2 separate regions of the Homo sapiens genome follow, and region 1 is linked to region 2. Evidence: fine-mapped expression QTL. Tissue or cell type: whole blood. Region 2 holds a variant in brackets; the other region holds the start of a gene. All regions are shown on one strand. Distances are from middle to middle.

Region 1 (8,130 bases), 45 kb after region 2:
TTAACTTTGCAGTTTACTTTCTTGTATCACATTCTGTAAACAAAGTTTCAGATATGGAATAGCAGCAGCAAGCTGTGTCACTGGGCAGGAGGTGGGGGGAAGTCCTGTGACACACTGTTTAATGTCCCCTGAGTTCTGTATTCTTACTAACCATTCTGCTATAGTAACCATTCTGATAGTTTCCATCCCTGGAAAGTTTCAAGAGGAGCGGGATCAGTAGCATCAGCTACTGAATGAATTCTGGGATACTCTCTTATTCTGATTTTCCTCTTACCTTTCTGCTTGCTCCTTTTAATGTCCCTTCACTGGTACTATTTCCCCCCATTTCCCTTGATTTTTGGGTGTTTTATTGTCTTCCCTTTTCCCACTATATCTAAGCCCTAGAAGGTATCTCCATTCTCATGATTTCAACCTTTATTAACGGGCTCTGAAGTTCCTGTTTTCAAACCTGACCAATCATCAGAATAATGTGGAAGAACTTCTTAAGGACAGAGATTCTTGGGCCTCACTCAAGCAGTACAGAATTAGAATTTCTGGGCCTAAGGCCAAGAAATTCTGGGGGAGGGGTGTTGCACTCAACACAGAATCCCGAAAGTAAGCAAAGCTGTTCTGTTATGCAGGTGAAAGAGGCCACTATGCTAGTACCTTCTGGTGATTTCTGAAGGGACGCCAGTAAGATGGTTGCTGCCTCCGGAATAGTTAGTAGTTGGGGATTTGGGCTTCGTCTTTCTGCAGAAACAAAAATGTATACAGATTCTCTTAGCATTTATATATTGATGTAGATAAGTCCTATTCTAACATGCAGCAATACTAGAAAAACCTCTATGAAATAGATTTTGACCCCTCAACAAAGGACTACTTACACAGAAGACTAATTTTTTAACATGTCACAATTGCCTTGGAAATGACTTACAATTGGTTATGTCAAGTTTACAAACAGGGTATGGAAGAGAATGTTAAACTATATGCCAAAGAGAATTTTAGATAATAATTTAACCTTTGCGGCCAAATATAAGGTAATTATTTGACTGAAGGAGTATCTGCTAAGAACTCAAAGTTATTTCAAATCTAAGTTGAAAAAAGACAAATTGTTCTGATTCAGCACAAAACATGATTTCTAATTTGGGGCAACTGAAGTTGAGAAACAAATCTTAACCTCATAAAATAAATAAGCTCAATTACACAGCATGTTTGAAGAGCCTAAACAAAAATTTAAGCACCTACTATGTGTTCAACAGTGTTTGGTATTTTTCCAAGTAAGTATACTTTTTAATTTTAGCATTTCAATCTTTACAATTTCATCAAATTGTATTGTTATTTGTTAATACAATACGATGGAAAGGTTTATCATGAAAAAGAACAGTCCCCGGTCCCATCCTTAACTGCCCGCATGTTACTCTTTTGATTTTGAACCTTTGATAGTTCTTTCTAGTCAAACAAAAGCATACATTTGAAGTTCCTAGGTAAGTTCTTATTTTAATAATAACAGCGTTTAAGAGGAGGCTGAGTAAAGTTCCTGCACAAACGCGCAGATACATTTCTAGAAGCATTTGCATAGTTCTTCCTATCTCGCCTTACCCCTCTGAGCTGCACCTCAGGTCCTAACTCCCTGGGGACCTCTGCACACCCTGGCAGCCAGAGGGCTGGCTGAACAGCCGCAAGCCAATAAGGCTTGGGGAGCCGCAGCGCCAGCCTGGGCCGCCCTTGCCACCATTGGCGCGGGGCTGGACGCGCGAGCTCCCAGCTCCGGCGCTCGGCATCCAGCTGCTGCTGCTGCCAACCCGGGCTGCCCTCGGGCGGACTGTATCTGAGGGCGCCTCAGAGCCGCGTCTTTCCGGTGAGGAGACGCTTTCTTTCGGCACCAGCGCGGAGCAAGCCCTGCCCGCCCCATCCTATTCCAAAAGCGCAGGACTAGCGCCCTTGCACCCTTGGTCACTCACCCGGCAGTGGCCGGTCGGAGAGGTCCTTTCTCCGGCTCTGGTCGGAGATGAAGCGGCGACCCTCTGCAAAAACGAGACCTGGGGCTCAGCGACAGCCTGGCCCGGGACAACCCGGGCTTAAACCTCAGCTCCTCCCGGCACAGCGCAGTCCCCGGGCGTGGGGAGGGGGCAGGTTGCTCCAGGATAGGGTCGCGCGGGGCTGCCGAGTTTCCAGCGCTCCCAGCGCAACCCCGGGCTGAGCCAGGGGCCCTGGAGCTCTGGAGGAAAGCCCCGCGCCTGACCGGACGCCGCAAGGGCGCTTTGGAGCGGAGGTCGGGTTACTGAGATATTTCCCAGGCAACCCGAGTCCCCATTTGGACCAAGAGAAGCAACCCTCCAGTTTTGGATGGAGAATTTCTAATAAGGATGGAGGATTTCCAATAATCAGGGACTCTTCCCCTCTCCCACCCCTCCCTCACCTACCGGTCTCTTTGATGGCCTCGATGATTTAAGGGAATAAACTCGACATTATTCTCTCTCCATAACTCTCCATCTATCTGTTCCTGACTCCTAGGGGTCTTCCATTATTGTAGGAAGAGCGAAATATTTGGAACTTACGTGCCCCTTTCAGGTAGAGCATAGCTTGAGGAGTCCAGTTCCTTCTCTCCAACAGTCTCTATAGCCCGGGGGAAGGGAAGAGCAGTTAATAAAACATTGCAGCTCAGTCCTCTATTACAGCAAAATAAAGGAAAAAGAAGAGAATAAAACAAGAAGGAAGAAAGAAAGAGCAGAGTGGACACACAGTGCGCATTGTTTTAAAATTTTTTATTTTGCATTTGATTACCTGCGGAGCGCAGCTGGAGTTTCCCAGGAAAACAAACACCAGGAAAAGAGCCAAGGTTGTTGCTGCCAGACTTCTGAGTCCCTATATGAAGCGATCAACCAGAAAGGGTCATTTCTGTGCCAATAGGATCTTCTGCTTCCTTCCTTGACGCCTGGACAATTATAAACCCCCTTACTTCTCGCAATATTCTGTTTTAATACTCAGTTTTCTGGAGGTGTTTCCCTTCTACCTTCTAGTTAATTCACAAAGAGTCCACTTGAAAAAACGTATTTAGAAACATATTATTTGTATTACTTCACCCAAATGAAGAATAAGTAAATACGTGAATTTTTTTCTTAGTAAAATCAAATGATTCTGTTATTCTAAAGGCGTATCGTTCAAATATCCTTTAAACTCTAAAATCCTTATTAAACATGAAATAGGTAAAATGCTATAAAACGTTTTAAAAAATAGCTAAGAAGTCTCAAGTTAATAAAGCCTTTACTTACCTTCATGTTCTGCGTCTTTTCAGAACCCTGAAATAACTATAACTTTATCTGTGAGTTTTCGACTCTTGCTCTGAAATTGGAGCTTTTAAAATCTTGGTGTTAAGGGCACCTCCCCATCTGGAGTAGAGTTTGGGAGTCCACAGGGACATCTTGTCAGTCTTCAAGCAAGATTGAGAATCTGATGACTCCTCCAGGGAGCTTCATTGCAGGAAGTAGAGGAATGATTGATGGGCAGAAATTATTTGTTTAAATACTGATTGCATCACCCAGGAGGCCTTCAGAATGTGTCAGCATCATTGGCCTTGCTTTTCCTACTAGCTGCCCAAAGTAACATGTTATTATTATTATTAATGAAAACAATCAATAGTCCAAGGCAGAATCAAAAGTAAAAGAATAAATCAGAAAACTTTTCTTGGGTAACTAGCCATCAGTCTATCACTGATGGCTAAAGATGTATGAAAAGGTTTGGGAATCTCAATGGAATTTGACATCAGTCATTCACTTAATTATCAATTCATTCTGTTGTTTAGCAAATATTTATTGAGTGCCTATGAGACACACAATCCTTGTATTTCAAGGGACACAGCCATGCACTGAAAAGACATGGTCTCTGCTTTGATCTAAGTTACCTACTAGTTAAGGTACACAGTAAACTGATGAATAGATAAATAAGACACAGTAGTTACCCCTTAATCGTAGGTGTGTGTGGGGTGGAGGAGCATGTTTCAAGACCCACAGTGGATGCCTGAAACCACTGATACGTATATGCCTTATTATACTATTTTTTTTTATCTGTTCACCAAGATGGTTACTAACTGATTAATGGGAGAGTGGTGTTTACATATGGACATGCTGGACAAAAAGATGGTTCATGTCTTGGGTGGGCTGGAGCTGGACAGTGAGAGATTTCAACACCCTACTCAGATTTAAAGCTCACAATTTAAACTTATTAATTCTGGAATTTCCCATTTAATATTTTCAGACTGTAGTTGACCATGGGTAACTGAAACCATGGAAAGTGAAACCGTGGATAAGCAGGGACTACTGTAACTACAGAATGTTTTAAATTGTTAAGTAAAAGTAAGCAAGGTGATGTGATAGGATAAGTGGTGGGCTACTTTAGGGAAGGTTAAAAACAGAGGGTAGTCTTGAAGGATAAGGTGAAGTAATGGGAGAAGCTGGGCAGGAATTAGTATTCCAGGCATTCTCAATAGAAGAAAGAAAAGCAAAATCTGTGGACAGCAAAGAGCATGACTTGCTTGGGGACTAGGAAAGAGGCCAATGGAGGCAGCGTTGTGTGGGTGAACGGGGGAGGTGCTTTGAAATGAGATTGGAGAAGAAGAAATGGGCCAGTTGATGTGGAAATACGATTATAAGCAATAGATGATGATGGCTTACACTGGGATGGTACACACAGGGAAAGAAGAGCTGTAAATGAATTTGGAATACATGTTGTGGAGGTAGAAAATATAGAACTTGTATATAAAAGGGATATGAAAGTGTGAGAAAAATAAATCAAGGATGATTCTTAGGTTTATGGATAAAACTGTGGGTAAATTATGAAGTAATTTACTGAAATTAGAGAAACTTCTTAAGAAGCAAGTTATGAGAGGGAAATTAACACTTGCCATATAGGCATATTAAAATTAAAATGTATATTAAAAATATCCAAGTACAAGTACAAAATAGAAGGTTAGAAATGCAAAACTTGATAGAGGTCAGCCAAGAGGTCACCAGCCTACAGATTTTCTTTTTGGTGGGGGGCAGAAATGATTAGCTTTAAGAATTTTAAGAATTCTAAGAATTTTACAACCAGTAAAGGGATGAGATTAAACACAACACTTAGGGAGTGAATAGGGCTAAAGAAGAGTGGCAGGGACAGAGCTATGAAAACAAACGCATAGAGAATGAGCAGAGGAAGAGCCAGAAAAGGAGGTTGAGGTAGAGTCAGAAAGAAAGGAGAAATTCCAGGGGACCCTGATATCATGGAAGCCAAGTGAAGATCCAGTAGTATTGGGAGGTCAAGCAACATTAGCTCCAAGAAACATCCACTGGATTTGGAATATGATGGTTTTGAGGATAGAAGCAAGATTGGAGTTGGTTGAATAGTGAATATGATATGATAAATTAAAGCCAAGAATAAACAATCTCTTTTACAGATGTCACAAAAGAAGGGAAAGGAAAAAATGAGAATTTTTTTTACTGTTATTATTATTGTTATTGTTATTTTAAAGACAGGGTCTCACTATGTTGTTCAGGCTGGGCTGAAACTCCTGTCCTCAACTGGTCCTCCCATGTCAGCCTCCCAAACCTCTGGGATTATAGGCATGCTTGGCCTGTGAAATCTTTTTTTTTTTTTTAAAAGATAAGATAGAAGATTTGTTATACTTTTTGGGAAACCTTTCATTTCTAGGAAATTCCTAAAATTCCCTGAATTATGAATTATGAAATTATGAATCTTTTTGGGAGGCAGAGTGTTTCTTCTATTGTACAAACTGAAAATGCCAGATAGTCAGTTTTCTAGCCTCCCTATCAGGGAGAATGTGGGCATATGACACGGGCTTCACCAATCAGATGAGCATGCTTAGATGGGGAATCTCATGCCAGGATGGAAGAAGTGCTCGGGTGAAGCAGGGGTTGTAGTAAGATTGAGTTTCTGGAGTAGTCTTAGCTACGGTGCTAGTGGCAAGTTCCAGCATCCAGTGCTGTAGCAGTGGTGATGCCAGCTGCAGTGTCCTTTTAATAAAATCTTTGTTTTGCCCAAATCAGCCATGTTTATTGGTTTCTGTTGATGTGACAACTAAGAAACAATTTGTAAGACATGTATATTGATGGGGATGATCAGTAGGGAAGGAGAAATTCATGATGTAGAAGAAAGGGAATATAACAGCAAAAGGAAATTCTTAGAAGGCAAGAGGGATAGGATTCCAAGTATATCAATATTCAGTTAAAAGATCTATATACATAGGCAGATATTGAACAAGGACCTGAGTATCCACCACATACTAAGTTACCATGAAAGAAAGAGATGGTCCCTCTCTTAGTCCATTCAAGCTGCTATAGCAAAATACAACAAACTGGGTAGCTTACTCAATGGAAATTCCTTACTCAACTCTGAAAGCTGGGAAGTCCAAGATCAAAGTCCAGTCAGCATGGTTGGGTTCTGGTGAGGGCCCTTTTCTGGGTTGCAGACTGTTGTCTTCTCTGCTGTGTTCTTACATGGGTGGGAGGGGAAAACAAACTCTTTGGAATGCTTTTATAAGGACATTAATCCCATTTATGAGGGCTCCACCCTTATGACCTAGTCATGTCCCAAAGGCCCTACCATCATATTGAGGTTTAGGATTTTAGCATATGAATTTTGGTAGGACACAAACATTTAGGTCATAGCAGTTCCTTCTCAGTTAGGGCAGTGGTTTTCAGGTATTAATGTGCATGGGAATCACCTGAGAATTTGTTAAAATGCAGATTCTGATTCAGTATACCTGGAGTGGGGCCTGAAATTCTGCATTTCTAATAGACTCCCAGGTGATGGTGATAGATGCTATTGACCCTTGGACATTTTGAGTAACAAAGATTTAGGGGTATAAGAAGTGACGAAAACTAAACCTCAGAGTTTGTGTGGCTGGAAGAATGGCTAGACAGAAATAGCAGGGACTCTGAGGAGAGAACCAGTAAGTTTCATTTGGGATTGAAGTTTAAAAGGCTCATGCTATCTACCTGCAAATACTTGGAAAAGAGATTGGAGTTTGGGCACTGATATTTAGACTTGACACTGATATGCAGACAGGAAAACTGAGGTTTGGTTAGTAAATGAGAATGGAATATAGAAAGTAGTATGTGAGTAGAAACTTGAGAACTATTTACTGTCTTCAAGGAAAACAGCAAAGCAGGAAAAAACTAGAGGCATTAGTGTAATGTTCTATTTCTACTGTCGTAGGAGAGGAGAAAGATAAAAACTGACTAAAAGGTTATCTGGATGCTATTTTAATAATGCTTCAAATGTGAGATTTTAGGATTTTCATTTCTAAGGATTGTAGCAATTTCCTTCAAAAAAGAGCGATAAAAGAAGTGAAATATGCTGTGTTTATATTTTAAATAGTCACACATGAAACCTGATTACTAGGTTACCTGAAAAATAAGTCAAATGCCTTTTTGTTCCCAAAACACAAAGGTTTTGGGAAGAGGAGCAGGAAAATGAATCACCAATAAAATGTGCTTTGAACTTACAATTTTAAGAATAAATAAATGTGCTTTGCTGATAATAGTTTAGCTAATGAATTCACAAGCAGATGTCTTACGTCAAAGCTGCCATTTTCAGTTTAATGTGCACAAAAGAAGGGAATGGTTTTGACATATTATCAATATTGCAGTCTTATCAAGAGTAACATGCTAGAATGTGTTACTTCTAAAAGGATTTCCAAAGGGCACTGAACCCCAATAGAATGTTTTTGTTAAATCACAAAGCTTTTAGGGTTTTTACAGGTCCAAAACAAGACATGGGTTAAGTTACAATATTTGGTATAAAACAAAACAAAACACACAACAACAAAAATCCAAGATAGGTAAAGCCCTTGAATTTTATTCTCCTGACAGTATGAGCAAGCAGTAGATGTTGAACAAATGGTCTTTTAAGCCTTTTTTAAAGGCACATTCAATGAAGACTGTTTTGAATTCATCACTGTTACCTGGATTCTTGTAGTCGACTGTAGAGTGCCCAGAACCTATTTAACCAGTGATCACCTGTCACTGTTTAAATGACATTCTTTCAAGGTCAGTGATTATTGTGTTCACAAGGAAAACAGCTGCTATCTTGGATAAGGTTATCTGGACAATATGGCTATTATGGTACAAAATGCCTAAATTACTTTTTGATGAC
Region 2 (8,000 bases):
ATATACTATAAATAAACACAAGTCTAGTCAATTAAAAAAAATTTAAGTAGTTTTTTAAAAATAAGCTTATAAGTAAGTGGTCCCAATTGATTCAGCTGTTCAGTGATATCTTTAAGAATTTATTTATTCTTAAATAAATATTTTTTGAGTGCCTACTTTGCATTTATTCCATTTATTTATTAATATTCATTACCTGTTATTAATATTAGTATTTATTCTTCTGTGGATATAAAAAATCTGCTCCATCACTGAAAGGGAGGATTAAGACCTAAAAATATATGGGGTTAATGAACATGCCACTGAATCCTGTATTATCCTTGCTAAATATTCATGCTTTATGTTTCGACTCCTTTAAGTTGCAAAATAATTTATAGACACCATAACTCCACTTATGATGTGGACCATGAGCACAATCAAGCTTCATCAACAACTTTTCTGAATGCTTTTTTTTTCCTAATGTAGGTGACAGATCATGCAGATGGTAAATATGTCGTTGCCCAATTCCATGAATGGCAGGCTGGAATTGGACTGATCCTTTCTCGAGCCAGGAAACTTCCTATTGCCACAATATTTACAACCCACGCTACACTACTTGGGAGGTATCTCTGTGCAGCAAATATTGATTTCTACAACCATCTTGATAAGGTAAATATTCCTTCCTCCCTCCCTCTTACTCACCCTTCTTTCAGATTGCTGAAGCTGAAAGATAAGTATTGATCTGTACATTTCATCTGCCAACCAGATGGCAGAAATGCCCTTTTAGCTAATCAATATTCATGACAAAGCTTCCCTTGGGTTGAAAGACAGCTCATATAGTTCAACTTTGTTCAGAGTACACTAGAGTATAGAGGTGAGAGGCCTGATTTCTGTCCCACTTTGGAACAATAGTTCCAGAGGGATATGGTAGGAGTAAAGACATGGTGTAGGTGCAAGGTTGGGCCCTTGTTCTAGCCTAAGGCTATGGAAGCGCTGTGAACACCCTGGATCCACATGCAGCTCTGAGTGGCAGGTAGATAATTGAGATTTGAGACATACAAACTTGCACTATGAGACTTACTTCCTCTATTTCTTCTATCCTCCAAGTAAACAATTGATTAAAAGCCACATTATAGGTTGATAGGTTCAGTTTTCCCTGTAACTTTGCAATGCACAGGGGGCATTTTTGTGGGATCAAGTAAAACAGAAGTTATTGCAAACAGGGATATGGGTCCTTGGTGAACAAGAAGTTATTTTTGCTCATCTTAGCAGGTTACCTGAGTCTATGACCTGCCAAAGTCATTCAGTTTTGATTTATTTCTTCTATTTTTCATGTCAATTTAGATTAATGAAAGTATATATTTTATATCATCATGTTAATAATATTAACAAAATGTTTGAGTAGTATAAATTCAGAGGTTTTGCAGATTTGGTGTCTATATTAACAATCAAATCTATTTAGTACTCTAGGGTTCAGTTTTGCTATCAGGAAAATTAGGAAGTTAGAAAGTTGATTTTTAAAAATTTCCCAGCTTAAAGAGTTCTAGGATTCTATAAAATAGAATGTGTATGTGTGTGTAATACACAAATAATACTCAAATAATGCCACTGAAAAGTTATACTACTGTCTCAAAGACACTTAGAGCGCAAGAACGTTCTTTCTGAAAAACTTTAACATCTGTAAAGCAATGAGTGGTCCTGATGAGCCCTTCCCTATAAAAAGGTCAGCCTAATTTAAAGGTCAAACTAGAAACACAAGCTGTACATTTAAAATAAAATCACCAAGGAATTCAGAAAGCCTGGGGATCTGGGAGGTTCTTAGCGGTATATAGTAATGGTGGACTAATAAGGGCAAACCAGTGATCTGTGATAAGCTGGTAAGCTCAACAACCATGCTTCCTGGAGAGGAGTGCACTTTGACTTCAGTGAAGGAGAAAATATTAGAGTGGCAGATTGAATATTTCACTTCAGAATTCTTGAATCTTGTATAGTAATAATTAATTTTAAAAGCTACTAATAATATACATAGGATATTTTTCTTTGGTTTTAAGGAAGAAATGCATTATAGTATATAGTTATATATTACAATTTTACCCTTTTGATGAAAGGGCAGTATTTTTCATACTGTCTTTAGATATAATCACACATCTCTCTAGTTTAAAGCCCTTCACTGGTTGAGATACTTAAGTTTAGTCAGATCCCTGCCCATCTTTCTAGTAAAATGTTCTATCTAGCAAAATGACTAGTAGACAACAAGCAGTCAAGAACTAGCTTTTGGGTTAAATTCATAGTCATTTTACACAGCAGAAGCCCCCATGCTCACACTAAATTTAGAATTTGGGTGACACATAAGAATACCAAATTATATACATGAAAGGTTTTTAAAATTTCAGTATAAGGAAGAAGTCATAGTTTAATCTTTGATGCAGGAACCAGGATCAGCTTCAGTAAATTCTGACTCAGACAAATGAAAATAGGGCAAATATGAGAACAAGAATAAGATAATTAAACTTTTGTAAAATCAGAAAGATTAGAACGATTTTACTCAAATTACTGCTAACTGAAAACAATTTTTGTTAGTAGCCAATTACAAAAACTCTAACGCTGGTTTAAGTTTTTAGTAAAATTCATTATTTAAAATAAGATTTTAACCATTTTCAGCCAGCGTATGAAATTTCTGAGAATATGTCTCCAAATTCATTTTTTAAAGTCCAATCATTGATCAATTATCCTCTCGACTCTAATGACTACATAATAAATTCTTTTTTTTCCTCTAAAGCCTTTAGTTTTCTTGTTTTGCCCCCCGCCCCACCCCCCCTCCCATTTTATGTTGTTTGTTTGTTTTTGTTTTTGACGCGGAGTCTTGCTCTGTCGCCAGGCTAGAGTGCCGTAGCGTGATCTCGGCTCACTGCAACCTCCACCTCCCGGGTTCAAGCGATTCCCCTGCCTCAGCCTCCTGAGTAGGTGGGACTACAGGCACGCACAACCACAGCCAGCTAATTTTTTGTATTTTTAGTAGAGACGAGTTTTCACCATATTGGCCAGGATCGCCTCGATCTCCTGAGCTCGTCATCCGCCCGCCTCAGCCTCCCAAAGTGCTGGGATTACAGGCGTGAGCCACCACTCCCGGCCTTTTTTTTCTTAATTGTAGCAGAATTTCCTAGATGGAAATCTGAGGACAGTGCCGTTTGGGATTGGAAAATGGGGAAGGAAGCCATGGACAATTATTTGGTGGATTTAAACTCTTTCTTCTGATCAAGCTTTGAGCTAGTCAACTTCAATTACAGGGTTATCCACATGTGTCACTGGACTGTGTTTTATTGATTAATATGTACTTTACCCATTTTTTGTTTTTCTATACACATTATCCAGAATTCAATAAAAAACTATGAGATATATTAAAATGCAAGAAAGTAAAAACCCATTGTCAGAAAGACCAGGTCCAGATATGTCCTGTGTTGGAATTATTGTACAGAGATTTTAAGATATAATCATAAATATGTGGAAGAATGGACAACATGTGTAAACGGATAAGGTTTCTGTAAAGCCACAGGAGTGGCCACG[C/T]GTACTACAGACCTAAAAGATAAGTGTGCCCCATGGGAGGAGGGAAAGGCAGAAGCATGCACACCCACCCGACTTCCCCAAGGCCTCTCACGGGGTCTCCAGGCTCTTGCTATCCTGCCTCTGTATTTGTGCATACTCAGCCTGCTCATTTAGAAAATCTATCTTCCCATCTCTAAATGTCCAAATGTTAAATGCTGTCTTATCTGTGACATGTGATTCTCTACAACAATAATAATAATTAATAATAACAATGGCTAAATTTATTGAGCACTTTCCATATACCAGGCACTTTTCTAAACATTTGACATTTGTTGTCTCATTTGAAATTCACAAAATACTCAATGGGATAGAAAACATTCTTTACTTCTTTCCAGAGTTATTTTTCTTAAACACTGGCTCTGTCTTTACCACACCTCTAAATAAACACTTTCAGAGTGGCTTTTCTTGTTTACAGGACAAAGGCAAAATTCCTAGGCTCATCTTCAGGGATTTCAGTGATCTGGCCCTATTGTATCCGACCAGCCTCTGTCTCTTACATTCTACATCCAGTGCTACAGTCACATCAGATGTCCTGCTATTTTCTGCACATGCCATAGCATTTTCTATACTTGTTCTTTAGGGCAGCTAGCATTTCAGCTAAAAATAACTTTCCCAGAATTAAACTTTCATATCCTGGTCCAAATGCCATTTTATTCATCCAACCAATTTGGAGATAGAAAGATGAATAAGTCTTCGTCTTTGCACTTGAAAGTCTTACATTTGTAGAGTTGATACTGACTACGCTTACTGCGTAGTATGAGATAATTTTGCCTACCTTCAGCCAGAGTGAATCAGTGCTGCTTTGATCCTATAACTTATTCAGACACATACTCATTTCATTTCTACCTGTTTTTAATCCATTTTCCATTAATTTATAAGTTTCTTAAAGTTAATAGATACACATAAATTGCTCAAAAAAGTTGATTAAATGAGAGATTTGGTTTCATTAATTAGGCTGGCCACATAGAGCTTTTAAGAAAACTTCTGCTGATCCAAGCATGTCATATACAACCTGATTCAAACATTTTCAGAGAGATGATTCCAAATATTACAGTCATGAAAGAATGCTCTAGGAGTTTTCTTGTTCTAATCATGAGATTCCTCTAATGGGTCTCTTTTTAGTATTTTTCTCTATATGATGCCATAATTATTGGGACTAACTTCTTGATAGAGTTGAAGTCTCAATGATATAAAAACAGATGAATACAAGACTGTATTCATTAATCAGTCAGGCTGATTAAGGATCAAATTAGGGTTCTACCAAGATTCTTAATAGCAATGTGACCTTCGACAAGTTTCTTGACCTCTAAAAGGTTCAATTTCCTTCTCCATAAAATGAAGGCAAAATATGTGTCTCAGTAGTTTATAAGAATTAAATATGTTATTGTGCGTAGTGGAGTGCCTGACACTAGTGCTGAAGAGCTACTAAAAATCTTCACTATGAAAAGCACCCTACTTACATAATGTCAGAAACTTTACATATTCTTTTTTTCTTAGACACTGCTAGTTTCATATGGAGCTGCGTGAGACACTACATTCAGTAACTAAGTGAAATGGCAAAAGCCCACACTGTTGCCAGTTATTTAAGTGATTGTTGGGAATTTGACTTTTTTTAAGTTAAGCTACCCAGAAGCATAGATAATTGCATAATCTAGCACAATATCTAACTAGACTAACTATACACTCTTTGCAATTATAAAGGGGAAGTTCTATAACCAAGGAAAAGCGTTTGTCTTTCTCTTTTTCAGGTTCCCTTTCAGTGAATTAAGCATTATAATAATTATTCTTATTTTCGATGTCAACTTTAATGTCAACTTTGTTTCATTGTTTATGGGAAAATATATAAAAGACTTTGGAGAAAGGCATTAGCTCAGTATTCCAAGATGTAGAATAAGTAAAAGTGTAATTAAAATGTCAAAAATTCAAGAATTCTATGTGATTACAGTAAGGTAGAAACATCATTTACTTAGGGAGTTAAACTGCAGTTTAGAGGGAGAAATGGAGTAAACAATGTCTTTTAAAGTGTAATTCCTTATGTATATTGTAGTAATGGGTTTAATTCAAGTTTTTATTACTTTTTTGTGGTCATAAATTTTTACACAGCCTTGAGGTAAGCCACTTGGTGAAATGTGTGATTTTGTTTAGCTTGTGTAGAAGGGCCATTGTTAGCAAATGTGTGTTTTATTTTTGTTTCTAACAGTTTAACATTGACAAAGAGGCTGGGGAAAGGCAGATTTACCACCGGTACTGCATGGAGCGAGCTTCCGTTCATTGCGCTCACGTGTTCACCACGGTTTCTGAAATAACAGCAATAGAAGCTGAACATATGCTGAAGAGAAAGCCTGGTAATTATTATCCCTGGATCACCTATCTTTCAGTTCCGAATGATGTTACACTATGAGGATTTTGTTTTCCATCGTGAAGTAGTAGTTTGAGGAAAAATTGCATTCAGTTACCACGCAGCTCTTTTTATGTATTTTAATTCTCAATTTCAGTAGGTTTGCAGGGAAGCCAACTCAAAGCTATATCTGGAACATGGCTAAGTGTTCAATCTGTGCTTGTTGAATAAATGAGCTATGCTTGAAATAACCTTGGTATGACCTGGGTTGTCATAATGAGTCGGTATGTGTAAGGAAGTTCGGTTGACTCTTGTCTTTTGAGAAAATGAAAGCCAAGAAAACAGAAATTTGTGTGAGACTATCCCAGTCCTACATCTTGTAATATTGCCTCATTGGTGCTGTGTTGGTAGAAACGTTTTATATTACTTATCCCCAGATTCCTTGGAAATTTTTCCAGGAACTATCTACAGACCCAACCAGAGCTTGCAATGTGAAGAACTCATGCTCATAAGACATGGCCCTGTCACCCGGCCACGGCTGATTGGCCCAAAGGAAGACATCTGACATAAGCTGGGCCAATCAGAATGCTCCCATTCAAACGAGTCTCTCAATGCACTGTCATACAATGAAACACTACCAATAACTCAAAGCTATTGGTAGTGTTCATTTTTCTACTTTGTTGCACTGGATGCAAAGAAGATTAAACTACACTGAATTGTTATAAGAAGCAAAAACAGACTGAGAGAGAGAACTAGAGGCTCTCCACAGTGATTTCGACCCCTTTTTCTTTTTTTTTTTTGAGATGGAGTCTTGCTCCATTGCCCAGGCTGGAGTGCAGTGGCGTGATCTCAGCTCACTGCAGCTTCTGCCTCCCGGGTTCAAGCAATTCTCTGCCTCAGCCTCTCGAGTAGCTGGGATTACAGGCACCTGCCACCACGCCCAGCTAATTTTTGTATTTTTAGTAGAGACGGGGTTTCACTATCTTGGCCAGGCTGGTCTTGAACTCCTGACCTCGTGATCCACCCGCCTTGGCCTCCCAAAGTGCTGGGATTACATGTGTGAGCTACCGCGGCCAGCCAGTTTTGACCACTTTTAAAAATCATTCCTAAGGCTCAGCTAAATATTTGCCATGAGACACTCCGGCATCCTATTAATAAATTCCTTGTTATTATACTTAAGCCAGCATTAGTAGGTTTATATTACTTGCAACGAAATCATCCTAATTAATATATCCTCCTTGCTTAATTTCTGTGGTCTTGTCTCTAGTTGTCCTTCTTTCAGATAGCAGAATGTGTAGAAGAGGTATTTCAAGGTGCTAGGTTAAAAAAAAAAAAAAAAACAAGATAGAACAAGAACCCAACTAATTTGAATAGTGGCAGCATTAAGAACCTATAGTAGCCTTTTTTCTTTCCAAGGATTCTCTTGAATTCGCTTGGATTCTTACTCTCATTCTTCTTTTGGGAGTTTATTCCATCAATATGCTCATTTCTCTCTTGGATCTTCCTTTTTCCTGTCTACAGTTATCTTTCTCTGAGCTCACAAAAATACTTTCTTTGTTTTTGCCTATTCTAAAATGAAAATTTCTCTTGAGGTTTCTACCCTGCCAAATATCATACCATCTCCTCCTTTCTCCTGCTGCCAAATATCTTATAAGAGTAAACCATAATTGCTAGGTTCACTTACTCATTAGCCCCTGGGACTCTGGCTTCCGACCTCCAACTCTGGCCTAAAATTGTGTTTCCAAAAATCATCGAATTCAGGGTCATCTAATGTTTTTTATTTTTCTTTATATTCTCTAGCATTTAAAGGCGGTGAACATCTGTTTCCATTATTTTTCATGACACTGCACATTCTACTTTCTTTCCAGTATAATCTTTTCTGGTGCCTCTAATCATTTTTCTACTTTCTTTTACTTTTCAAAGTGGACATTCTCCAAGATTCTATTCTAGGTCCTGCTTTCTCTATATACTATTTTCTTAAATTTTTGTTTTCTTAAGAATATAGCTACAGAGTAGTGGTCAAAGCATGAGCTTTTTGCCAAACTGCCTGTATTCAGTACCAAAAATGATTTTATGTTGAGTA

Evidence for each region. PIP is the estimated chance that this variant, and not a neighbour inherited with it, causes the effect.
Region 1: SPX starts here. The variant in region 2 is fine-mapped to the expression of SPX in whole blood (INTERVAL, PIP above 0.99).

Annotation. Positions count from the first base shown.
Region 1 is chr12:21,521,600-21,529,729 of GRCh38, reverse strand. SPX (spexin hormone) reads right to left here and starts at 3,434. Exons shown (of 6, transcript NM_030572.4): 1 at 3,252-3,434; 2 at 2,764-2,844; 3 at 2,538-2,595; 4 at 1,941-2,003; 5 at 646-729. The coding sequence starts at 3,257.
Region 2 is chr12:21,566,789-21,574,788 of GRCh38, reverse strand. GYS2 (glycogen synthase 2) reads left to right here. Exons shown (of 16, transcript NM_021957.4): 4 at 463-645; 5 at 5,780-5,924. Among named protein-coding and RNA genes, the nearest start is that of GYS2, 34 kb to the left of the region's middle. The variant C/T (reference allele first, on the strand shown) is at 3,541.